Regions from separate parts of the Homo sapiens genome. Here regions 1, 2 and 4 are each linked to region 3. The links come from fine-mapping of genetic effects on gene expression. A gene starts in region 3. Each other region holds a variant in brackets. All regions are shown on one strand. Distances are from middle to middle.

Region 1 (8,390 bases), 440 kb before region 3:
GTCAGACTAATTAAGGAAAAAAGAGAGAAGACCTAAATAAATAAAATCAGAGATGAAAAAGGAGACATTACAACTGATACTGCAGAAATTCAAAGGATCACTAGAGGCTACTATGAGCAACTATCTGCTAATACATTGAAAAATGTAGAAGAACTGAATAAATTCTTAGTCACCTACAACCTACCAAGATTGAAGCATGAAGAAATCCAAAATCTGTACAGACCAAAAACAAGTATCCAGATCAAAGCCATGATAAAAAGTCTCCTAGCAAAGGAAAGTCTGGGATCTGATGGCTTCACTGCTGAATTTTACCAAACATTGAAAGAAGTGGTAAATACCAATCCTACTCAAACTAATGTGAAAAATAGATGAGGGAATACTTACAAACATATACTACGAGGTCGGTATTGCCTTGATACCAAAACCAGACAAAGATACATCCAAAAAAGAAAACTCTAGGCTAATATCCCTGATGAACATTGATGCAAAAATCCTCAGTAAAATACTAGCAAACCAAATTCAACAACACATTAAAAAGATCACTCACCAGGAGTGGTGGCTCATGCCTGTAATCCCAGCACTCTGAGAGGCCAAGGCAGGCAGATCACTTGAGGCCAGGAGTTTGAAACCAGCCTGGCCAACATGGTGAAACCCTGTTTCTACTAAAAATAAAAATAAAAAATTGGCTGGGCGTGGTGGTGTGCACCTGGATTCCCAGCTACTCAGGAGGCTGAGGCAGGAGAATTGCTTAAACCCAGGAGGCAGAGGTTGCAGTGAGCTGAGATTGCACCACTGCACTCCAGCCTGGATTACAGAGTGAGACTCTGTCTCAAAATAAATACATTAAATAAATTAGTAAATAAATAGAAAAGATCATTCATCATGACCAAGTGGGATTTATCCTAGGGATGCAAGGATGGTTCAACATATGCAAATCAATCAGTGGGGTATATCATGTCAACATTATGAAGAACCTCCAAACTGTTCCCCACACTAATTTACATTCCCACCAACATACAAGGATTCCCATTTCTCCATATCCTAGCCAGCATTTGTTATTGCCTGTCTTTTGGATAAAAGCCATTTTAACTAGAGTGAGATGATACCTCATTATAGTTTTGATTTGCATCTCTATGATGATCAGTAATGTCAAGCAGCTTTTCATATGCCTGTTTGCCATTTGTATGTCTTCTTTTGAGAAATGTCTATTCGAATATTTTGCCCATTTTTTGATCAGATTAGACTTTTCCCTATAGAGTTGTTTGAGCTCCATATATTCTGCTTATTAATTCCTTGTCAGATGGATAGTTTCCAAATGTTTTCTCCCATTCTGTGGGTTGTCCCCTGCCTTTGTTGATTGTATCCTTTGCTGTGCAGAAACTTTTTAACTTGAAGTGATCTCATTTGTCCATTTTTGGTGGAGGGTTTGCCCAGGGGAGTGACATAATTGGACTTCCATTCCAACTGCTGTGCTGGGGGTAGCATGGAGAGGTGCAAGGACAGAGGTGGGGACAAGAGGAGGAGGCTATTCAGCTGTTGCAGTAATCCAGGTACCCTATATAGTGGCTTGAACCTGTGACCGTGAAGGTGGGGAGATCTTGGGATATATTTTGAAAATAAAGCCAAGAAGGTTTGCCATTGAATTGTATGTCTGGGTGGTAACAAGTGATGATTTGAGGGTGACTTTAATCCTTTTGATTGGAGCAGCTGGGTGGACACTTGAGTACCTATTGTATTCTGGGCAGAAAACAGATATGGTCCTTCCCTCAGAGAAATCATTTTGAAATGGGAGAGACAATAAGCAAGCAGACACTTAACTCAATAATAACCTTGGGAGAGGGCTATGGGGGTGATAGTGGGGTCCTGGGATAGAAGGGAACCCCAGAGAGGAAAGGGCCTGGTGGGAGAAAGATGAGAAAGGCCTTGCCTGGAAGGCGAGATTTCAACTGAGGTCTGAAAGCCAAGAAGAAGCCTGCTATGTGAAGAATAGGGGAAGAGCACTGAGTGGAAAGGGAAAATCATGTGTAAGGGCCTTGAATCATAGGAAAAATTATTTTATGAATTTTCAGGAGGCTAAGGTGGCTGGTGTGTGTCCTACCAATCAGAAGTGGAGGTAGAGAGATAAACAGGGGTCAGGTAATGCCAGTGCTTGTGAGCTTAGACAGTAGTATTTGTGTGTCTGTGTGTGTGTATGTGTGTGTGCATGTGCACACACATGTTTATTTTCTAACAGCAATAAGGTTTAAAGTTTTATGATGCTATGTCACCTGGCCTTGAAATTCTGGAAGCAAAGAGGGCAGGCATAGTATTCTGCCAAGATGTGGCCTGAACAGATTTGATGCTGCCTACTTCTTTATTCCACCACTACCCCCTTTTTCTTTTTCTCAAGTTGAGTCCTCAATCTTTTCCTGAGATGAACACACTTCCCTTTCTCCAGATCTTGTGGCTCCACAGAAAGACAGAGGACTTGGACTTCTTTGACAGTTCCGATCTACAAGTGTTGGTGGGACGCCCTTTCCTAGCCGCTTATCCCTGTTTCTTTCTCACTTGAAGGTCTGCCCACTTTGCACCATCCCCTCATGAAAGGAGGTGATATTTGATGGCTGTGGATAGATAAGAATGAATGACAACAAAAATATTATGGTGTGGTAACCTGGAAGTGGCTTGAGAGCCTGTGTGCAGTCGCTATGAGGGACAGCCATTCCTCCCTTTACCACAGCCATACACCAAGTTTCGGAAGGGGGAAAAAGAACATCTTAATTGTGAGCTGATGAGCTGATCAATATTCTCAATTTATCTCTTCAGCTCTAGGCTCCAAATTGAAAACGGGACTGTGAGAATCTCAAAGGGCTGCAGCTGTGGCACATCCCTGCCCTGCAAGGAGCAGTTGCTTCATGCCAAGTAGCACCTCCGAGGTTTCCGGGCACCTGCCCAGGATAGTAGGGTGCTCATGCTGCTTGGCCACTTACAGACTTGTGGGAGCTGCTTGTAGGACCATTGGCATCAGGACTGGTTGTAACTTTATGCTCTGTGGACCGCCCCATACGTCTATTCTGGGTTAGAACAGGGCTCCAGGGGCCAATCCTTTTGTTTCCATAATAACTGTAGCCAAATACAACTTCTCAGCAAGGGTATGGGAAATGTGTCCATGAATGGGTGGGAATGGGAAGGGTTAATAAGAAACATAGCAGCAGCTATCATTGACACAGCACTGTAAGTGCTCCACAGGAAGATTCACCTCAACCTCAGGAGGCAGGTACTATGATTATCCCCATTTTACAGATCATTTAGGGAAGCTCTGCTAGTAGGGATTCTTCTAATAAGTGTCACTGCGCTTAGTGTTTGATAGAAATTTCATACTAATCCTGGCAGTTTCTATGACACTAATCCGGTTAATCCAGGAGGGTGAAAACAGTTCTGGGGGTTGGGAGACCCAAGCCCCACTTTCGATTTCTATTAGTTGTCGTGCCACCTTGGTCCCCTGGGACCTCTGTGTCTCATCTTTAAAGATGCAAATT[T/G]TAGGCAATAATTCCCAAGGACTCTTCTGGCATGGATGGTATATGACCCTTCACTTCAGCATCCTCTATTTTATGTGCATCAAATTTCAGCCCAGTCTCCTGTCCAAAAATGGAGTCCCTCACCACCAATGACTAACAAGGCAGTCTCTGCATTGGGCTCACTTTCCAGGGCTTAGCCTTGAGCACAGAGCTGGAGAGGGAGAGCCTACATTCATTTGCAAAAGTCACACTGGGCTCTTTACCAACAGGGCCGTTTTAACATTGCATCGTCAGGCAGTTGTCCACTCTCATTCTGGACTGCTCTACACACATGGAATTGGCTAGGTTGACCCCATCCTGAATGGGTAGCATAAATTTCAATAATAATAATAAACTCTTCTTCATAATTCTGATTGCTCACTAAGATTAGTTTGAATTGGGAAATCTGATTCCCAACTGCTACTGAACAACTGGATCATTCATTCATTCTTCCTTTTATTCATTCAACAAAATTTTTTTGCACATTATTATGCATCAGAAACTGTACAAGGCTCTAGGGGTACTAAGATATGAAGACCAAGGTTCAGCCATTACAGGGCTTGCATTCTGCTCAGGGAAAGAGGTAATAAACAAATAAGCACATAGCACACTTTTTCAGATAGTGATGAGTGCTGTGCTGAAAAAATAAAGCAAGATAAAGGATGACGAATTATGGATCTACTTGACTCTTTTGGGGGACTCTTTTAAGTTTGGAGAGGAGATGTCAGGAAGGGCATCTCTACAGAGATAAAATTTTACAGAGACCTGAATAAAGAGAGAGCTGTAATCATGTGAAAGTCCAGAGATGTATCCTTCAGGAAGAAGGAACAAAGCAGAAGGTACCATGGCCAGAGGTTGGAATGAGAATGGCAAGTCCGAGAAAAAACAAAAGGCTAGTGTGTGTGCATACTGGTAGCAGCCTTCCATCTGAGCAGGGAGGGCCTTCCTTCATAATCTGACTTGGCTGCACGTTGGCAATTAGAAGAGTAGGATGCAGAAGAGGAATCTCACATGCTGTAACTTTTAAAGATAACAACATATGTGGCAAGACAGCCCAAGCCTACCCTAACATATGCAGGACCTGGAGCAAGAGTACAAACAGAGGCCCACATACTATATGTCCAAATATTTAAAAACTATAAATTAAGCTAACAAACTGTTCAGTGAAATATGTCCTGTCTTCTTACCTTAACAACTATATTTTCATAACAACCTAGAAGTTCAAGTTCAAATTTATAATGTTTGGAGTCCCAGCCCCTAGCTCCAGGTTTGCACCTTCTCTTCCTGCCCACCAGCTGCATCCAGGGCAGCAAGAGGCCTCTCACATGCACAAGTGGTCAGCCCAGCCCAGTTGTCCAAGCTCCCCCCACATCTCATCACAAGCAGCTGCCTCTTGGGCCTGGGAGTGTGCACATGACAGATGGGCAGATGTGGGAGAGACCCACAGAAGTTCTGGAAGCAGGAGCAGGACTGTTGGGCAAGGAATTCTGGGGCCCCAGGTAGTCTACAGGGGGAAGAGCAGGCTCTTGACGGGCTGCAGCTGGAGATGGTCCAAATGGGGCTGTTTAAAGCCAAGGTCCAGGGCAGGCAGCTCCTTCTCATCCTGTATAAGGACAATACCTCACCTGAACTACTACTGCAGGTTGTTCCTGGAAGGTGAATATTAAAGCAATCATCCTCCATGCAGAGACAAGCTAAGACCCAGGGAATGAAGGCTGAGGTCAAGGTGCTGGAGAAGTTGAGCTTAACCTTCCAGGCTAGACAAAGGAAGAGCTGATAGAGATCTTGGACTTTGTAAGCTGGGAAGGTTACACGTTTCTTGTATTTTCTATGTTTATGCTCTTCTTTGTCTTCTCTACATCTATCTATATTAAACTCTTTGAAAACTCCATGCAGTCTTGGCTAAGGGAAGCCCAGGGAAAGGTTTTGATCTTTACTTCAGCCAAAATATTTAAGGGGGCAGCAGCACCTGGGTGCCAGCAGGAAGTCACGTGAAAGAATCCAAAGAAGGAGGTGAGGCCTCTGATTCAGGGGTGTCTGCCAACCCTTGTACCTCCACACACACACTCCTGAAAACTTTCTTTCAAGCACTAACTTTGGAAGTTCTGAGTGAGAAAAAGAACCCCTTAGTCCACAAAGACTGCTAGAGACTCTAGTGTCTGTTCTCTCTTTCTGTCTCTCACTAATATAACTCTCTGTTCTCACATGGAATACGAATATCTAGTGTAAAAATACGATTTCCCAACCTTCCCTGTAGCTGGGTGTGGTCATTTGACCAAGTTCTTGACAATGGGATTGAGAAGTGATGTGTGCATCTTTAGGGTTGTGCTTTCAAAGGAAGAAGGATACTCTTGTCTTTCTCCTTTCTCTTCCTGCTGGCTAGAATATGACATGGTGGTGAGCCATCCTGGATAACATGGACAAGGGGGACATCCTAGCAGATAGGAACAAGATAGAAGAGGCGGGGTCGCTGACACCATAGACCAACCATGACAGTCCTGGAGTTCTTGCCTTTAGACTATTAAGTGAGAGAGAAACTTCTATCTTGTTTAAGCCACTGTTGGTTTTTGTTACTGCTGCTGTTGTTTCTTTTATAGCCACTGAACTCTCATCCCAACAAATATAGTAATTTTACCACCCCTTGGAGGGAATGCATTCCTCACGTTTAATTTCCCATGTATAAAGGACTTTTTAAATGCTTTAAACGAAGGTTGTAGGTTGTCTCCTAATCTATATTTACACTCTCGTCACCATACTGAATTGTATAGATTTTTGTTGCCATCCTGAATTGTATAGATTTTGATCATGTCACACCACAGCACATCTTCCTATGTTGAAATCCTTTGAGTTTTAGCTTGACCTCATAGAGAACAACTCTGCCTTTCCTAAAATTCAATGATTTCAATTTTATTATCTTCTCTCAGTTAAATGGTACCATGGGCTATTTAGTCTTTGGGCTGGGAACCTGGCCCAGAACCTACAAATGTTGATTGAATTTAATTAACTTGAATTGAACTTCAAAAAGCATTTTCTCTTCAGAGAGATAGCATGAACTAAGCATAAACTAAGTCCAGGGTTTCATTCTATCCCAAGTAGACAACATGAAGGCATGGAGGGAAGTAGGGCTTAAAGCGAATTCCTCTACAGGAACATGTTTCCCCTTATGGCCCCAGCTCACCTCAATTTCCTGACCACTCCCTATGCACACTTCATGTCTCAGCTTAGACGTCACCTCCCAGACCCCTAGACTAGGTTCATTTCCTCTGAGTTATTATCTCAAAGCCTCTGGGATTTGCTTTTTATTACATACATCATACTTGTGTTTACTTCTCTGCTGGCTATTTTTGTCAATTATAAAAGCAAGACTATACCCATTGTATCCACAGGCCCTAGCTCAGTGCCTTGCTCACAGCCAGTGCTCAATAACAATTTAGAGCCAGGTGTGGTGGTGAGCAACTGCAATCCTGGCTACTCAGGACACTGAGGTGGAAGGATCCCACGTACTCAGGAGCTCAAGGCTAGCCTGGGCAACATAGCGAGACCCCTGTCTCTAAAAAAAAAAACAGTCAATGGATGAATAGATAATCAATGAGTGGCATTATCCTCGGCTCTTCTTTCTCATACCCCACATCTAGAAGCACATCCTAGGCTTCCTAGGAAATACTTCTAGATTCCAACCACTTATCACCTCCTCCACTGCTCTCATTCTGGTCCAAGCAGCCATCATTTTCCCCTTGGATTATTACATTAGGCTACTACCTGGCCCCTCTGCCTCCACTTTCCACCTTCCATCCCTCCTCTGGCAAACACACACCATTTTTTTTTTCAGTACAAGTATTAGAGAAGACTGAAGATGGGGTCAAGTCATAAATTAGGGCCATATTGAAGATAGCATTTTTGTCCCCTCCCAGAGCAGGAAAACCATGGAGCCTTCTCTCTCATGTTTTAACCAGCTCAGGTAAAGACTATAGCACTCAATTTCTATTTAGGTAGGTATGGCCATGTGACTAAACTCTGTTCCATGCATTGTGAGAGGAAGTAATAGAAGCATTTTTGAGCCATGCCCTTAAAAGAAAGGAATGAGCCTTCCTCTTCATCTCCGTTTCCAGCTACCCAACATGCAGAGGTGATGGCAGGAGCTGGAGCAGCCATCTTAGGCTGCAAGATGGAAGAATATGTTAAGGAAGACAGAGAACAATAAAGAAGGCTGGGCTGGGCATGGTGGCCAAGCCTGTTTTCCAAGCTACTGGAGAGACTGAGGCAGGAGGATCATTTCAGCCCAAGGCTGCAGTACACTATGATCATGCCTATGAATAGCCACTGTCTCTCTCTCTCTCTCTCTCTCTCACACACACACACACACACACACACACACACGGAAGAAGAAGGCTAGGTTCCCAGTCTTTTAGAGCTTCCTGCCATATTGGTCTTGGCATGTTTTTCATGGGCTGTTATGTGAGAGATAAATAAAATCCTATATGTTCTAAGCCACTCTAATTTGGGGTCTCTGTTACAGCAGCCTGTGTATCCTAACTAATACATATTCCCTTCCCTACCACAGCTGCTTCCTAGAGTGTGAAAAAAAATTCTGCTGGGAAAATATATGTAAAAGTCCATCTCCTTTTTAATGGGTGACTTGGAGACCTCTCAAAAATTAAGGGGGGGTAGAGTAAATCCTTGTTCTAAAGCAGTTGGGAAAGAGCTATCTCCTACACAGAAAAGGCTCTTTGGTTCCATATGTCAGCAACTTAGGAAAGTGCAGGAGGGTGGAGAAGGCAGCCCTGTTACTGGCTTTCAGGCCCTAATGTGTGAAATGCCTTTGGGGAGTGAATGAAAGAATTAGCTTAAGGTCTG
Region 2 (8,390 bases), 72 kb after region 3:
TCCACAGAGCAATAATGATATCAGGTTGAATTTCAAGAACAGGAGTTCTCCGATGTTGAGAATAGAAGACGCAAGATGATGGGAATCTCTTCCTCCAGTTTCTCATCAGGGAGCCGCACATAGGGAACATTAGGAAAGGGATGGCTATTAACTTTGGGTGTCTTCTCACATTCTTTTCTGGCCCTCCCCACCTCCTTGGGTTCTGGTTCCCGATATCCTAGGGTTCCCCGAAGTCTCCTAGGGTGCTGCCTCACTCAGATCTTCCCACAGTCCCCAACTCTCCATGCCTCAATACATCTTAGCTCCTCTCTCTTATGATCCAAACACACATTTCCTTAATGAAGCTAAGTTTGGGAGAGGGTTAGGATGACAAGCTTTCCTTGAACCAGCTGCCATTGAGTAAATTCTGAGCAAAGCGTCTGTTTTTAAATGAGTAGCTTACTTATCCAAAAGACTCTCATCTGTGCAGTTTCAGGCACTGCCACAAAATTAAAAAAAAAAAAAGATTACATGAAGGGAATAATTTGGGGAATGTGGAAGCCATTATAATAAGTGTGCTTATTCTTCCTGCTTGGGAATCTATCCCAAATGGTACCTGCTTTCCACAGATTCCCTCCTTTCCCCCTTTCTGAATCACAGATTATATGCCCCAGATTGTTTTCAGCAGTTCCAAGATTTTTAAAATTGTTTTTATCTTGAGAAATTACTGAATTAAGGCAGATAGACAACCCCCTGCCACCAGAAGAGTACATACTGTAGGATGCCATTTATATAAAACTAATCTATAGTGATAGAAAACAAATTGTTTAAGCAAAAAATGGATTACAAAAGGGCCTGAGAAAACTGTGGGAGGAAACAAATGTTGATTGTGGTAAAGATTCCATGGGTACGTACACTTGTCAAAACTTATCACATTGTGTACTTTAAATAAGTGCAGTTTAGTGTACATCAATTATACTCAATAAAGTTGTAAAAAAGAGAAATGCAACCAATATGCAAAAAGACTAATTGGCATTTATTAACAGCTCATATTTGCCTCAAGGATTGTTTATAAAAAATGAACTAAATAAAACAGATAAAAGTGACATCCCCAGACACAGTTCCAGTTCTTTACTGCAACCTCCAGAAGCAAGTAGCATGAATTTAGTGTATATCCAAATCAGTCCACTGGTAATAATTTTACATACATATATAGTCTTAATATAATGTATTATTTCTGTGTTTTTAAAATTTATATCAATGACATGCACATTTTATTCCATGAATCTCTTTTCTTTACATTATGTTACGTGTTGGTATTATATAGATACTTTATACATGGATATATTATGTTATATATGGGAACAATCCATTCCTTCTAATGGCCATTATAACAATTCATATCCTAATAGAATATTATGGTAATTCATATCAAAATAGAACGTGAATATGTTACATTTTATTTATAAATTCTCTCTTTGATAGGCATTTCAGTTGTTTCTAAGGTTTCATAATTATAAGCAATATTGCAATAAGCTAAGGTTTTCAAAACAAATGTCATGGTATTGGCGGTAGGAGTTACTGGGTAGTAGCCACCTGGTAGGTATATAGATAGGTCTTCTATGAGTCAGATATTGGTAAAGTAGAATGTCCTGTTTCAAGGATCCATGGACTGCACAAAAATAGCCAAAGTTGAATAAGACCCTGTCTTTAAATTCCAGAACAACAAAGTGGTGCTATTATGTATCCTGCAGAGTTGGAGATGATTCAGAGGACAATTCCAATGCCCCATAGAGTTTAAATCTGACTTGGATACAGTTGAGATTCAAAGCAGATGACCTCCCACAAAGCAGGTGGGTTAGATGCCTTTAGCAATAGGCCAAAGCAACTCAACTCTATCTGTTGCTGTTTAAAGCCTTCTTGAAGGTCGTTAATGTTAAATGAGCACCAGAAAATGTATATTCATTGCTTCTAGGTTACTATGTTTGATACATATGTATTAAATCTACCTTGTTTATAGTATTAGATCCCTCTTTTGTGCTTAATTTTTACTCTCTTGATTTGGTAAAGGTTCAAGGTAGCATGTTAAAGCATCCCATTGCTATTATGTTTCTAACAATTTTTCTAAAAACAAACATATACCAATTCCCAAAATTTATAGCTTTGTTATAATTTTAGAATATTGAAAGGTAAAATTCATATCTCAAAAGTATAGAGAAGAGAACTTCTAGCAATATAGTGGACTGAGATTATATAGAAGAATTCCCTCTTCAGTTACTGTTACAGGGAAACACAGAGAAAATTTTTTTATATATCTATATATACACATGTATATGAGTACAAATATGTACACACACACATACATGTATGTGTATATATACGTACATGTGTATGTATATATACGGTGGATGTACCTGACAGCAATAACTTAAGCATACTCTGTACAGCAGCCTGTATGGCAAACACATCTGACAGCAATAACTTAGCCTAGGAAATGGGGGTTGCCATGTGGATGTTGCTGGAGAGAGGGTGCTGAGTGAAGGTGCTGTATAAACTGCAGGCTTTTGGAAAGCAGTTGTGGTTCTCTTATCCAGCCCACTGCCACTAGTCCATCCCTGTACATAAGTTCCCCCAAATCAAATCTTATGTCTCATTTGCTGGCTCCAGGTCTCTTCTTTGGCCTCTTGAACCTGGTGCCATTCCTATTGGAGTCAATAGGGGTCCAGCACAACAATCTCTAGACAGAGAGAAAGGGAAATCCCCAGATTCTAGAAACAAAGAGGGAGCTCAGAGGCTGGGCAGTAAGTAGGGGCTAATGTCACTGTAGCCTCTGCAGGGTTTGGACCAATGATAGGCCCTGGAGATCTGGGGATTTTAACACCCTTGGGATTTTAACACCCTTGCAGGCCAATAAAATATTGTCTCTGGTGTGAGTAAGGAAGGCAACTGGAATTGAGCACTTTGCAAAATCTGAGTTCCTGAGGGCTACAGTGTTGGCAAAAACAAATCAGGAAAAAAAGCTCCCGTGTCCTTGGGCTATAGGTTTAAAAAAATAAAAATAAATTTAAAAAAAGGTCATACAGAAAAACTTGAAGCCAAGCCCATGCCATGCATTGAAGTGAGCTCTGAATTTTCACTGTGGGCAGAAATACCAAGAAACATTAGAGCTGGTTGAGAGTTGGTGATATCGGTAGGATGCCATCAGAAGCAAACTTGCAGGCATAGTGAAGTGACAATCACATTACCCAAGGCATACAGATCTTCACCAGAGGGGAGAAATCCCTGCTGAAAATAAGCTCATAATAAAAATTACAAACCATAGGAGGAAACCACCTTGAGGGTCAGATCATGAAATTAACAGAAAAAGTAATGCCCAAGAAGTAAAGAAACAGATCAAGCCACAGATGATTATAAAATAAGTACATTTTAAATGATTTACAAGGGCAAAGGAAAATACAAATTAAAAAACAGAAAAACATGTGAAAACAAAATGCAGATTTAGAAAATAACCAAATAGTTCTTTTATAAATGAAACTTATAGCCACTGAAACTTAAAACTAAATAGAAATATTTAATGGTTGAATAGAAAATAAGCAAACTGGAACTAAGGAAATGACTCAAAATGTAACACGGAAGTAAAAATGGAAAAACAATGAATGAAAGTTTAAGATCACAAAAGACAGAACCAGAAATGACAGAAAAGACATCCACTAGGAGTTTTGGAATGAGTGAATAGAAAATGGGAAAGAAGTAATATTTGAAGTGACAGTGACCGAGAATTTTCTCAGATTTGACAAGACAGGAATTCCTAGATTGACAAGTACACTGTATTGATACCTACTGCTGTATAACAAACCATCCCAGCATTTAGTGGATTAAAACAACCACCATTTATTTAACTGGCAGTTCAGTGGGTGAGCAACTTGGGCCTGGTTCAGCTGAGAGGTTCTCTTGGGCTTGAGAATGGGTTTACTCACACATTGGTAGTCATCTGGCAGATGCAGTCAGCAGGCCACGGCCTGGCTCCTGCTGGCCTAGCAAGAAATAAAGGGGAAGAGAAGGAGCCTCAGTCCAGGGGGGCTCCCTGCAGAGAATGCTCTGTTTCGCTTAGCAAC[C/T]ATCATGCCACAGACAAGTTACTCTGGCAGTGACCCAAGACCTCTGTGTTCTAACTTAATGTGCTGGGGTATAGCGTGTTCTGCCCTTTTACACAGATTGTGACAGATGTTGACTAACTGGGAACGACTTGATTCCAGGAGGGGCCGTGGGAGTCATTTTAATTAATGGCTTGACATTTCTTTGCCATTGTTGCAAGCTTGAGGTAACTAATGGTTAGTTTTACCCATGACCACTTCGCCCTGCAAATTCAGCTCAAATAACCTAAATTAAAATAGAAATTGCTTTGGTCAGGGTTAAAATTTGTGCTGTTAGGACTATAGTCCTAAGACTTTTTTCTTTTTTGGATTATGGCTAATGTTTAAAAGAATCAACAAGACTTATCTGTATCTTTACATAGTGTTTTAGATCGTTGGATAGGCAAAGTAGAAAAGGCGAGTCTGGATTGTGGGAAATAAAAGCAAGTAGAAAAAAATTGAAAATGCAGATCATTTCAAAGAAGAAAACAACAAGGCTTTCCCATCTGGGGCTTCCTAAAACATGAATTCCTCTCAGCCAAGTAGTGGAACCTAAAAAGTCATTTGTTTTTCCTAAATAAACTCCATGCTGGAGTCTTTGATAAACAAACTGATAGGAAATAAGGAAACCCTGTTAAAAATCACAGTAGACTTTAGAATGAAAGAAGCCTGCTTACTTCTGTTCTGGAAATACTCAGCTCTGGAAAGGGCTTCCAGGCGGATCATCCTCACATAATTTTTATACTTGAAATATACAAGCTATGGGAGAAAGCAAAAACAAAAACAACAGAAAAACCACCCTGAGGGACAAGAGGGAAAAGTGTCACCTGTCCCAAAAATTTAATCCATTTAAGACCTAAAAGCAGGGCCAGAGGGAAGGTGTAGGGAAGGGTGGGGACAAGAAACCATCCATGTGGCTTCAGGATGGGAGGGGGCTGAAGAGAAGCCACCCCCCGGACTCCAAATTTCCAAGGACAATATCTATTTCAAATATTCACTTGTCTCCTTCTCCTCATAAATGCCCTTGGACTTGTATTACTAGATGTTCAGATAAATAGTTTTAAAAATTGTGTCACTATTATCATGGGAAGTCCAAGGGGAGTAGGGAAGTTATTACTTTTTTTAAGTATTACTTTTAATAGCAAAAACCGCAATTACTTTTGTACCAACCTAATAGAAAGGGTCTTTCCAGCTACCTTGGCAACCATGCTTATTTCCAGTGCTTCTGGGTGGGCAGCATGTCTGTGCTTTTGCTATGGTTAGTCTGTAGATTTGGTGTCCTCCTTGCCTTTCTCAGACTTTGAAGTCTCCCCTTTGCTTTAATGAAAAAAAGTCTCTCCTTGGCTTTAATGATGATCAATCTGTAGCCATTTTACCCCCACATAAACCACACCCTATTTTAATCCTTCAGGTGAAAAATGCTCAAGTTGGACAAGATCCACAAAATATGAGGGCAAAGTGGAGCTCTTAGCTGGAGCAAAGGTGTGACTTTATGTTTCCGTAGGGAGCCTTTTTCTGCAGGGTACACAGAGGGCCACTTGCTGACACTGGAATTCCACTGCTTGTGCTTCTTACTTTGCGTGAAGACACTGAGAACAGATGGCATCAAGGCGGATCTGACATGGCCACTAGAATAGCTTGGACAGGAGTTCAAATAAACTGCGTCCACCTTGACTCTGCCTTGGCCAGAGCATCTCATATCTGTTTCTTCTTCTCTAGTTGACTGAGTGCACCTCAACCCACTTGCAGTTCCCATCCCATTTTTGAATAGGCCATTTGGAAAAGAGCTCTTTCCCAGCTCAATCATGCTTTCTGCTCTTGTCTTTCAATCCAGCTGCATTTGTTCACCCCTGTGGGTCCTCCCAGCCCTGCTAGGCCAGTCTCTCCTGGGGTGTTCTGCACAAGCTAGCTATGAATTAGGCATGCTCTCTTTTAACATGAAAATAACCTGGAAGACTTTCAGCTTAAGATGATGGAGAAAAGACCTTATCTCTCCTTTCCCCTGTCAGCAAAAAGATGAGAAACAGAAGCGCACATCACAATACATGATGACAAAAAGCAACTAGAGGACTCTGGCCTTAGCGGAATAGAGAAAGGTGAAATGTAAGAACCTGCAGAGAATGAAATCACCAAGAAGCAAACTGATTTTGTCCTGTACGAACTCTCAAACTAGTGCCCAGGCTTTGAGCACTAGTTGGGGTGAGGCAACTGATAAAAATAGAGAGATTTGTTCAAAATCTATTTAATAAACATATAGTCCTCACCCATAGCCCAAAAAAAGTGATGAAAACCCTTCCTTACAAATATTTTTGGAGGAAAAACTGAACCAGAAGTTTCTAGTATATGATGGGGGTTAGAATCCAGAGTAAAAATATTGAATGATGCAAATGTTCTCCTCATCTCAGCTGCAAAAATGCCAGCAGCTAGGCTTATACCCTTCAAGAGGGAGACCGGAAGATTCTTCTCTCCAGACATCAATTCTCCAGAGAGAATTCTAACAGATATTGACATCTGAGTTTCTCCCATTGACAAAGCCACCTTACTGCCATACACACTGCAGTGGAACCAAGGAGGGTGACAGTTTTCAGGACAAGAGGAGGCTGAGGAGAGGTCACCCCCAGACTCAAAATTTCCAAGGATGGTACCTATTTTAAATATTCAGTCTCCTTTTCTTCATAAATGTCCTTGGACCTGTATTACTAGATGTTTAGATAAGTGCTTTTAAAACCCTCCCAAGCCCACAGACTTGTCATTTAGCTGGCTAGTGCTTCACTCTCAAATAAGAACAGATAGTCAAAAATCAGTAGACATTTGAAAAAGTTTCCTTACATGAAAGACAGACACAAAAGTCAAACCAAACAAAACAAAACAAAAACAAAACAGAAAAGGCTACTTAGAGGAAGTAGAGACAAGGTAGGGAATAAATAAACACTTCAAAGACAAAACTAGAAATAACATCCTTAGATAAGAAGAGAAAGTGCATTCATGAAAGGAAAACAGAATAATATAGAAAACAAGTAACTGGAAAATAAGAAAGAGCTCTTGGAAATTAAGAGTAAGAAAGCTGAAGTTTTAAAAGTTGCTAGAAAAGTTGAATGATAAAGTTGAGGAAGTCTTTTAGAAAACAGAACTGAAAGACAAAGATGTGGGCAATAGAGGAAAAAAGATAGGAAAATTAGAAGCTTGATCCTGGGGGTCAACATCCAACTAATAGGAGTTCCAGAAAGAGAATTTTGAGGCCAGGCACCTCAAATTTGCCAATGCTCATGCCTGTTATCCCAGCACTTTGAGCAGCTGAGGTGTGGGTGAGGGACCGTTGCAGGCCAGAAGTTCAAGACCAGCCTTTTCAATATAGCAAGATCCTGTCTCTATTAAAAAAAAAAAAATTCCAGCCAGGCACGGTGGCTCATGCCTGTAATCCCAACACTTTGGGAGGCCGAGGCGGGTGGATCACGAGGTCAGGAGCTCGAGACCAGCCCAACCAACATGGTGAAATCCCATCTCTACTAAAAATACAAAAATTAGCTGGGCATGGTGGCGCGTGCCTGTAATCCCAGCTACTCAGGAGACTGAGGCAGGAGAACTGCTTGAACTCTGGAGGCGGAGGCTGCAATGAGCCGAGATCGTGCCACTGCACTCCAGCCTGGGCCACAGCGAGACTCCGTCTCAAAAAAAAAAAAAAAAAAAAAAATTCCTCTGGCTGAAAGTCTTGAGTCCCTCAACTGAAAGGGTCTCCCAAGTGTCCAGCACAATGAATTCAAACCATACTAAGTCATATTATTATTTCAATTAGAAATGCTGTGGCATTTATGTCATTTTGGATCCTCTTAGATGTCAAGATGAGATTAGGTAGTCAAGAGATTTATTGGGAGAAATGCCTGTGAAGGATAAAGGAATGCAGAGCAGAAGAATATAATGCAGGTCTGCTACCTGGGAAAGAAGAGAGGAAAGAAAGTCCTGCCTAGGAAAAGCTTCAGGCTGCAGCACAGTTCTGAGAAACTGTGACACTGTGTCCAGCCAGAACAAAGGAGTGTTAGTGTCTGAGGCAAAGGCTGTTCATTAGAGTAGCCTCACATCAGGTAGGCACAAGTGGCTCTACTGTCCTCATCTTATTCAGTGATCAGCTGGGAGCAGTCGAAGGGAAGTATGGCCTCTACGTAGCTGTCACTCAGCTATGCTTTCCATGGCCGACTATCTTAAAGGGACATCTAAGCAGTGTACCTCCAGGACTGCCACAGTCCATTTCTTTTCCTCCATAGATCCAGTTCCCCATGGCTCCTG
Region 3 (5,000 bases):
TTTATTTTTCCACCTGTGTGCTTTGGAAAGGGGTGGGGCACCACCACGTGCCTAGCAACTATCTCAAACTCTTACGGCAAAAAAAGAATGCTTAGTCTACAAAAAAATGAATGTAAAGTTTTTATAAAATTATCTCAGCAACAAAAGGGCACAGAACATGTGAACTTTACGATTGAGAAAAGACAATACAACACCGAGTCACAGGCCTAAAAGGATACTATTAAATATATTAGGGCAGTTCTGTGATAATAATTCTGTAAGATTTGCATAAATAACTCTGGTCTCAAATTTCACTTCAAATATATACTTTCTGAGATCCACACAATGCAAAGTAGTGTTAAGTCAATGAACCAGGGGTTTCATTTCCAACATTCCCAGTAATGGGTTAGAGTGAATTAAGCTCTTATTTGGGAATCTTCTTGATAAAGCAAAATGAGTTAAACTCCTACCCAGGTCAAGCCTTTTAATACTTAAGCCAAGTAGCAATGAGATTAATACAAGTTTATACAAGCTGCTAATAATTGGGGCTCATTGTCCCTTCAGTTTTTACTTCATTTGGTCTCTAAGCAGCCTCTTGAGGGAAGTATTAAAAATGTACAGAATGGGTTCATTCAGTATTCTTTCTTCTACTGAACAAACATGGAGTAGCTAGAGTTGCCAAGTACTAAACTGAGATTATAGATATTCTAGAAAACAAAAATTCACAATTTCTCTGGAGCAACCAAAAAAAGTATCACAAAGTTCATGAGCTGTCACAATTTTGAACTACTGCTTCAGGTCTTCAACCGTCAGGCAAAAGGATGGTCTTTACTGATAATATCCCAACTTAATATTTTCACCAAATTTAACATTTTCATCCCTGAAAATTGCTCCTAAAGCTAACTTTGTGTGAACAGGGAGGGGGAGAGAGAGAGAGCTTGACAAAAGCAAAGTATAGCGTTCAGCACATGCCTCTGTAACGAATGGGCAACTGGTAGGTTTGTACTGTCATAAATCCTAGACTCTAGTCTTCAGACATGCTATGCTAAGATCACACTGTTAACATTCAATAGTTAGGAGAGAAAGCTTACTCCTGGCACATAGTAGGTGCTCAATAAACGATGTTTTTACTATAATGGTGATTATGATTACTGCCAGAGAAACACTGCAACCACAAGCAAACATCAGTCAAGCTTCATGTTAAACAATCAGATGCTGTTAAAAAAAAAATAGGTTCATTAAAAAACTTTTGGACTTCCAGATTGAAGCCAAAACATGTTATCCTTCTCCTCACTCCTCCACTGTGGGCTGCCTTCATCCAATGAAGACCAAGTTTTTAACTATTAAAAATACAAATGTGTCTTTGACAAATAATCCATGGAATGGTTCTTGGTAACCTATTGACCAGGTAAAGGCTGTGATTCTATCTGACATTAGGAGTATTTTTTTCTCTCTGTACAATAGGATATGCCATTGTTATCTTGTTTGCTGAAAGGAAAAAAGACCCAGTGCCCAGATTTACACAATGAAAAGCCTCTTGGATTTAACGGTACTTTGAGAACATACGGGAGGACACTATTTAAATAATTATTTTTCTTCTGTCTTTAAGAAATAAATATTTAGCGACTGCTTTAACCATCTAAACAATTTTTTCCACTTCCTCAAAATCCCACTCTCTGGGAAGATCAGTTGTATGTGCAGAATCATCCTCAGACAGCTGTACTGCACTGGAAACCACGTCCCCTCACGGTGGCTCTGCTGACACTCCGAACTCATGGCCCGGTTCTCTCAATTCTGTCTAGGATGCAGCCAACCCAGAGAAACGTTACAGTGACAAACAACAGGTTCCACTCTGCTCCGTTCCCACATCTCTTAAAACACGAACACTCATTCATTCACAAATCCCTACGCTCGGTTCCTGTGCTGAGACTCCAGCCTGGCTGGTAATCCCAGGTAAAAATCGGAATATGGGGCACTATCTATCCTGGTGCTGCAACTGCACCAGTCACCTACAAGGCACGCAAATCCAGCTCAGTGCTCAGATTTCATTCAACAGGACTGGCCACCGAATGCTCTCAATGGTCCCCACCCCTCTTCCTGCATAAACCAAGCCACAGCCTTCCTGCCCTCAAGGAGGAACAGGCCAGCCCACCTGCTTCCTTCTGCGCTCCCTTCCCCGCCCAGTCCCCCAGGACCAGCTAAGGACGCTTCCAGGACCCCTCCAGGGGCCTTTTTCTGACCACATTTCCTGGGCTCCCATCATCTCCACAAATGAAAAGTAAACTCCTCCTTAGTGACAACCTCTCCAAACCAACCGCCTCACGGTCACCCAACTCCGCCGGAGCCCCCTACCCGTGCGAGCCCCGCCGACGGGGCGGACGGCCCCCACGGCGTGTGCCAGCGCGGGGCATTTACCTTCACGCTGGTGTAGCAGGTCTGAGTCTCGGCCTCGGCGCTGCTGCAGCAGTGGCGCCTCCGGCCCCTGCTGGTGGTCGCGGCGGGGGCTGCGGAACCCGCGCTGCTACCGCTGCCCAGCTCGGTGCGGGCCCTGCGGACGCGGGCTACGCTGGGGGGTCCCGACGCGCGGCTCGGGGGGATGGCGTCGGCGGCGTCGGTCTGGACGAAGAGGCCGGGCAGGGGTGCCGCCGGGCCCTGCGACACGCTGGTGGTCTGGCGGGGCGAGCTGGACTCGTCCGAGTCCCGGCAGTAGATCACGCCGCTCTGCGAGACATGGATGCTGGGGGCGCAGCCCATCCCTCGGCCGGGCTCCCCCGCGCGCCCGCCCGCGCCCGCGGCCGCCGGGACCCAGCGCACCCGCTGCCACCTGCAGTGAGGGGGCGGCCGCGGCGGCGCCCGGACTGCGCGCCCCCCGGCCTGTGTGTCCGCCGCTCCGTCGGGCTGGCCGCGGTGCCCCCCGCCGAGCCTCCGGGGACCGCGCGCGTCACCCCAACTTTCCCTTTTGGGCCATCTTCCTCCCCGAGCGGGGGAGCGCGCATACACAGCGCCCCGCGCGCACCAGCGGCCGCCACCCTCCCCGCCGCGGCGCCCCAAACACGCTCCCCGCGCCTCCGCCTTCCCCTCCTCCCTCGGCGCGGCCCCCGCCGCCGCCCAGCTCGACCTCGCCGGGCTCCCGCACCCGCGGCCCTGGGCCAGGGCGCCCGCCCGCCTGCCCGCCTGCCTGCACCTTCTTTCCCCACTTTCGGTCTGCGCCCGTCCCCTCCCTCCCTCGCTCCCACCCTCCTTCCTCCTCAGGTGCCCCGGCTCCGCGGCCGCAGCCGCCCGGGCCCCACTGCGCCCCTCCGCCCCTCCCGCCGCTCCCGGAGCTCTCCCGACAGGGCAGAGCGTGCCCGCGGCTCGGCTCCGCCGCGGGGCCCCTGTGCGCGGCAGCTGGCACCGCGCCTCGGCGCCCTCCCCTCCTCCTCCGCTGTCCAGAGGCCTCGTCTCTTCTGCACTCATCCCGACGCCGCCCCCAGCGCCCCAGCCCCTCTTCCCCTGAAGGGCTGTGTAAGCCTCTCGCTTTTCACCAACACATTTTCACACATCCCAGAGCTAAACACCAGGAGGCCCCTCCCGAAATGGCAGGGGCCCTACAGCCCAGGCCCACCCACCGCATTTGCTTGCCTCTCAACACACCCGGGAAGTGATGGAGAGACCTCATGGTTCCGTCCTCTTCCCCCAGCCCCACCGCCTACTCCGAAGGCTGAGTTGGATGGTGACCCAGTCTTCAGAAGAAGCCCATTCCATGTCTACTCATCGTTTGGAAGTTTGTGCCAAGGGATGGGAGGCCCTGCGGAGGAAGGCACCCTTGAACACATACGTTCCCCTAAGATCCAAGGCAAGAACAGAAAGAAGCTGTCTGATGGTTCTTGGCTTTCTCCCCCATTTTCACCTCTTCCTTAGGTGTCACTAAATGTTCATGCTGGTTTCTATCCCGTCCAGCCGCCCATGTCAACTGCTGTTCCTCACACTCTGGGCTGGGCAGTCAACAAGGCCTTCCCTCATTCTCCTTGGTGAGGCATGCACAGACTGAGCTGTGCTGGAGGAGAGGAAGAATGCCTTTAGAAGGATGGCTGCTGTTCATCCTTCCCTTGTAAACTCTGAGTTACAGCTGCGAGACACCACTGCCCATTCAGTCACTGGTTCCCGCAGTAATTCCTGCCCGATTTTCACAATGGCACGGGGAGATAAATTAGATGGTCTAAGAAAGGATTTTATCTAGAGTTGCTTATACGGACAAGGGCAGTAACATAGAGGCTTAATGCAAGGCACAAAGAAGTATCCAATTTTAAGGTTTGTTTTTTGTTTTTTTTTCATTCTTATTTTCCTTTTTCTTCCTGGACCACTCTTGGATGTGACTGGATGAAGACTTCAAAAGACAGTTTCTAAATTTCATAGAGAAGCAAGATATCATTCCCAATCCCAAATTCAGTTATACAGGGAGAGTCTAACCTTATTCTTCTACCTTTGCTTCTCTTCTCAGTTTAGCTCTCTTTTTTTGATACAAAAAAACTCCATCTCCAGCTAACCTGGAAAAAGTCTATGCTGTATTTTTTAATGGACAGGCAAATTGCTCATAAAATTTCTGCACAGGTTGGGTCCTCCTAGAAGCAGATTCTGAGATGGTGTTTAGCAGGCAGAGGGAGGCTTTTTAGGAAGTGCTCTTGTAGTCAACATTTGTGGGAGGAAATAAAGGGAGGGAATGGAGGGAGGCAAGCTTGAGCAGAGGGAGAAATTGACCAAGCCTCAGGCATCCCTGCAGGGAGGATTCTGAAGGTGGGATGATGCTTCAGAGTTGTTCTGAGTTGGGGCTGGGTTCTGAGTTGTTCTGGTGGGCCTTTATACCCCAGCATGGACCAGTCTTTACATGCAGGCCACCTCAGCGACCTTGGGCAAGGTGGCTCTCTTCAGCTGAGGCACTGCCCCTAGGAGATGTCAGCTGAGCCAAGGGCTTTCTGCTGGCAGCACTCCCAGTAGCTGGAGGAGTAAGTCCTTTCCTGGCATCATAGCCTCCACCCACAGTT
Region 4 (5,000 bases), 370 kb before region 3:
CCTTGCCTTTCGAAGCATCTTTTGGGCAAACTTCTTTCTCAGGCGCTTGATCTTCAGCTCTACGAAATTCCTTCGCTTTTTCTTAAGGGTTTCTGGCACAGCAGGAACCTCCTTCTTCTTCTCTTCTACACCCTCCATGGTTCCAGCCGGAAAAAGAGGAAGTTGGCGCATGCGTACTCTGCACTTGTTAACTTGTTATATATCTATGCATATTGTCTACTTTCTTGCTGAGCCAGAGTTGGTAATTTGTGTCTTTTAGGAATTTTGTCCATTTCATCTAAGTTATGTAATCTATTGGCATATAATTGTTCATAATATTCTTTGATAATTCTTTTTACTTCTGTAAGTTTGGTAATAATGTTCCCTCTTTCATGTCTGATTCTAGTAAGTTGAGTCCTCCCTTCACTCTCCATTAATCTAGCTAAAGGTTTGTCAATTTTGTTGATCTTATCAAATAACTGGCTTTTGATTTCATTGATTTTTTCTCTAATTAAAAAAATTGTTTCATTTATCTTTCCTCTAATTTTATTACTTATTTTCTTCTTTTGCTTCAGGCTTAGTTTGCTTTTCTTTTTCCAGTATCCTAAGGTGTTAGGTTAGGTTATTGATTTGAGACCTTTCTTCTTTAATGTGGGCTTTTGCAGCTATGTATTTCCTTCTAAGCACTGCTTTAGCTGCATCCCATAAATTTTGGTATGAAGTCTTTCTTTTCATTCATCTGAAAGTATTTCATGATTTCCTTTTTGATTTCTTCTTTAAGTCTTGGGTTATTTAGGAGTATGTTTTATTTCCATGTATTTGTGAGTTTTCCCATTTTTTCCCACTATTGATTTCTAATTTCAACCCATTGTGGTTGGAGAACATACACTGTATTATTTCTATCTTTTTAAATTTACTGAGATTCATTTTGTGGCCTAACATATGGTCTACTGAAGAATCCTCCACATCCACTTGAGAAGAATGTATACTGTTATTGTTGGGTGAAGTGTTCTCTAGAAGTCTGTTATGTGTAGTTGGTTTATAGAGTTTCTCAAGTCTTCTGTCTTCTTGTTGATTTTCTGTCTAGTTGTTCTATCCATTATTAAAAGTGGGATATTGAAACCTCCAGTTATAATTGTTGAATTATCTGTTTCTCCCTTCATTTCTGTCAGTTTTTGCTTTATGCACCTTGGTGCTCCATTTCAGAAGCATATATGCCTATAATTATATCTTCATGGTAGATTGACCTTTTATCATTATAAAATGTCCCTCATTATTTCTGATAATATTTTTTGTTTTAAGGTCTCTTTTGTCTGTTATTAGTAGTATCTGTTATTCAGTTTTTAAGTGATTGCTGTTTGCATAATACATAATTTTTACCTTTTTACTTTCAATCTATTTCTATATTTGAATCTAAAGTGTGTCTCCTGTAGATCATATTTTTTATCCAGTCTGACAATCCTTTTGATTGGATTGTTTAATCCATTTATGTTTAATATTATTACTGCTATAGTTGAGTTTTCATCTGCCATTTTACTTTTTATTTTTATTTTATTTTATTATTTATTTATTTATTTTTGAGACGGAGTCTTGCTCTGTCACCCAGGCTGGAGTGCAGTAGTGCAATCTCGGCTCACTGCAAGCTTCGCCTCCCAAGTTCAGGCCATTCTCCTGCCTCAGCCTCCCAAGTAGCTGGGAATACAGGTGCCCACCACCACGCCTGGCTAATTTTTTTGTATTTTTAGTAGAGATGAGGTTTCACGATGTTAGCCAGGATGGTCTTGATCTCCTGACCTCGTGATCTGCCCACCTTGGCCTCCCAAAGTGCTGTGATTACACGCATGAACCACCGTGCCCAGCCTACTTTTTATTTTTTATATATTTTTTTTCCATTTCTTTTGTACTGCTTTCTTTTGCATTAAGCGTATTTTTCTAAGGCAGTATTTTCATTTCTTTCATGATTTTTTCACTATATTTTCTTGTAATTTTTTGAGGTTGCTCTTGGATTTACCATATGATTTGGTTTGGCTCTGTGTCCCCACCCAAATCTCACCTTGAATTGTAATAATGCCTACGTGTCAAGGGCAGGACCAGGTGGAGATAATTGAATCATGGGGGCAGTTTCTCCCATGCTGTTCTTGAGATAGTGAGTGAGTTCGTATGAAATCTGATGGTTTTATAAGGGGCTTTCCCTTTCTCTCAGCACTCATTCTTTCTCCTGCCATCCTGTGAAGAGATGCCTTCTGCCATGATTGTAAATTTTCTGAGGCCTCTCCAGCCATACTGAACTGTGAGTCAATTAAACCTCTTTTCCTTATAAATTACCCAGTCTCGGGTATGTCTTTATCAGCAGTGTGAGAACAAACTAATACACCATATACACATTTACTTATCAGAATAAACTTCAGATTTATACTCGTTTAATTTCAATAATGTCTATCTATCTAATCTATCTATCTATCAATGTTACTCTTATATAGCTCTATTCCTTTTCTTCTATTTTTGTAGCATTATTGTTCTACATATTATAGCTACTGATGTCACAAACCTAATAATACATTGTTACAATCATCAATTTGTGGTCATTTCCTTAGCCCAATATAGCCTAACTTCTACTCACATTTTTTTTGCTGCCATTGGCAAATATATTACACATATATTATATTTC[C/A]ATATGTTATAGGCCCAACAACACATTACATACATCTTATTTTATACAATTAATTTTTAAATCAGTGAAGATAAGAAAGGGGAAAATATGCAGTTATACTTCTTTTCTGATTACATAATTAACTTTACAACGTGTGTGAGTGCATGTGTTTGAATTACCATCTGGGATCACTTGCTTTCAGCATGTAGAACTTTAGTATTTCTTGTATGGAAGATCTGCTAGTAACAAATTTTCTCAGTTTCTGTTTTCTGGAAAAGTCATTATTATAACTTCTTTTTTGAAAGATAGCTTTTGCTGTATATAGGATTCTTGTTTGACAGGGTGGTTTTTTTTAGCACTTTGAACATGTTGTTCTACTATCTTATGGTCTCCGTTGCTTTTGTTTCATAGTTTGCTGTTAATCTTATTGAGTTTTGTTGTGTAGTTTGCTGTTAATCACTTGTAAATGATGAGTCATTTTTCTTTTTCTACTTTCAAAGTTTTCTCCTGGTCTTTGATTTTGGCATTTTTAGTGTGATGTGTCTATTTACAGATCTCTTTGAATTTATCCTACTTGGAATCATTGTACTTCTTGGGTATGTAGGTTAATGTTTTTCAATAAATTTGAGAAGGCTTCAGCCATTGCTTCTTCTAATATTTTTTCTTTTCCTTTGTCTTTCTTCTCTACTTCTGCTACTCCCATTACACATGTTGGGCAAGCTTAGTCAAGCCCCACATTTCTCTGAGGCTCTGCTCATTTTTCTTCATTCCTTTTTCTATCTTTCTTTGGCTTACATAATCTCAGTTGATTTACCTTCAAGTTCACTGTTTTTTTGTCTGCCAGTTCAAATCTATTATGGAACCTCTGTAGTGAATTTTAAAATTTTCTTTTATTATACTTTTTAATTTCAGAATTTTTGTTTGACTCTTTTTTATAGTTTCTATCTCTTTATTGATATTATCTATTTGAGGAGACACTATGATCATACCTTTCTTTACTTCTTTTTTTTTTTTTTTTTTTTTGAGATGGAGTTTTGCTCTTGTCACTCAGACTAGAGTGCAGTGGTGCGATCTTGGCTTACTGCAACCTCTGCCTCCTGGGTTCAAGTGATTCTCCTGCCTCAGCCTCCTGAGTAGCTGGGATTACAGGCTCCCACCACCAGGCCGGGCTAATTTTTGTATTTTTAGTAGAGACAGGGTTTTGCCATGTTGGCCAGGCTTGTCTTGAACTCCTGGCCTCCCAAAGTACTGGGATTACAGGCGTGAGCCACCATGCCTGGCCCTTTACTTCTTTAATTATGCTTTCCTTTAGTCCTGTTAACATGTGTATAATGGCTACTTTGAAGTCTTTTCCATTAAATCCACCATCTGGTTGCTCTCACTAGCAGTTTCTGTTGCTTGCTATCAGATGTATGGGCCATATTTTCCTGTTTCTTTGTATGACTTGCATTTTTTACTTGGAAAATGGACATTTTAAATAACATATGTAGTACTATGGATACTAAACTGCCCTCCCCCAGGTCTTGCTGTTGTTTGTTTGTTTGCTGGTTTTCTGACTCACTGGTATATTTTAGTGAATCCTACCCTCTACCACCTAGCTCCCTACAGTGTTAAGCCTGTTAAACTCTATGACATTATGGCTAATGTCTCTATTGTTTTCTCCAAATCCCTGGGGGTACGTATTGCTCTGCAAATATATCCAAATTGTGATGGTTCGACTTATGATTTTTTTGACATTACAATAGTGCAAAAGTAATATGCATTTAGTAGAAACTGTACTTTGCATTTTGAATTTTGATCTTTTTTCGGGTTAGCGATTTGCAATATGATACTCTTGCAATGCTGGGTAGTGGCAGTGAGCCATTCTGTTTTTCATTTTCGGGACAGTGCTCAATAAATTACATGAGATAGTCAACACTTTATTATAAAATAGGCTTCGTGTTAAATGATTTTGCCTAGCTATAGGCTAAGGTAAGTGTTCTGAGTGAGCATTTTTAAGTTAGGCTAGGCTAAGCTATGATGTTAGGTATATTAAATGCACTTTTGACTTATGATAGTTTCAACTTACAATGGGTTTATTGGGACATAACTCCATAATAAGTTGAGGAGCACCTGTAGTTTCTGAGGTCAGTGTTTGATATTTGTTCTGATCACAGGTGAGCTTCTCCCAGCTTTCTTATTCTTTCACTAGGAACAGTGCTGCAATATATATTCTTGTATATGTTTCCTAGTGCACATGTGTAAAGTTTCTCTAGGGTAAACATCTAGCAGTAAAATTTCTCAGTTGTATAACATTATGGCCACTTTTATTTAATATTGCCAAAATAATCTTTGAAGTATTTAGATGAATTTCTATTCCCTCCATCCTCAGCAA

Which allele goes with the higher level. Alleles are on the strand shown, and positions count from the first base shown. SD is a standard deviation of normalised expression in the study named. Not every link is listed here.
For the expression in spinal cord of the gene that starts at base 2,979 in region 3, T is the low allele of the variant in region 2 and C is the other (moderate effect, 0.42 SD a copy in GTEx).

Evidence for each region. PIP is the estimated chance that this variant, and not a neighbour inherited with it, causes the effect.
Region 1: its variant is fine-mapped to the expression of PDE8B in liver (GTEx, PIP 0.99).
Region 2: its variant is fine-mapped to the expression of PDE8B in spinal cord (GTEx, PIP 0.97).
Region 4: its variant is fine-mapped to the expression of PDE8B in tibial nerve (GTEx, PIP above 0.99).

What each region holds. Positions count from the first base shown.
Region 1 is chr5:77,647,562-77,655,951 of GRCh38, reverse strand. No RefSeq gene overlaps it. Among named protein-coding and RNA genes, the nearest start is that of OTP, 13 kb to the right of the region's middle. The variant T/G (reference allele first, on the strand shown) is at 3,519.
Region 2 is chr5:77,134,884-77,143,273 of GRCh38, reverse strand. The region is part of intron 2 of ZBED3-AS1 (ZBED3 antisense RNA 1); the gene reads right to left. It also overlaps a transcript of PDE8B not described here. Among named protein-coding and RNA genes, the nearest start is that of ZBED3, 52 kb to the right of the region's middle. The variant C/T (reference allele first, on the strand shown) is at 4,095.
Region 3 is chr5:77,208,659-77,213,658 of GRCh38, reverse strand. It overlaps PDE8B (phosphodiesterase 8B), which reads right to left and starts at 2,979. Exons shown (of 22, transcript NM_003719.5): 1 at 2,395-2,979. The coding sequence starts at 2,733.
Region 4 is chr5:77,577,514-77,582,513 of GRCh38, reverse strand. It overlaps a transcript of WDR41 not described here and the pseudogene RPL7P23. Among named protein-coding and RNA genes, the nearest start is that of OTP-AS1, 50 kb to the left of the region's middle. The variant C/A (reference allele first, on the strand shown) is at 2,648.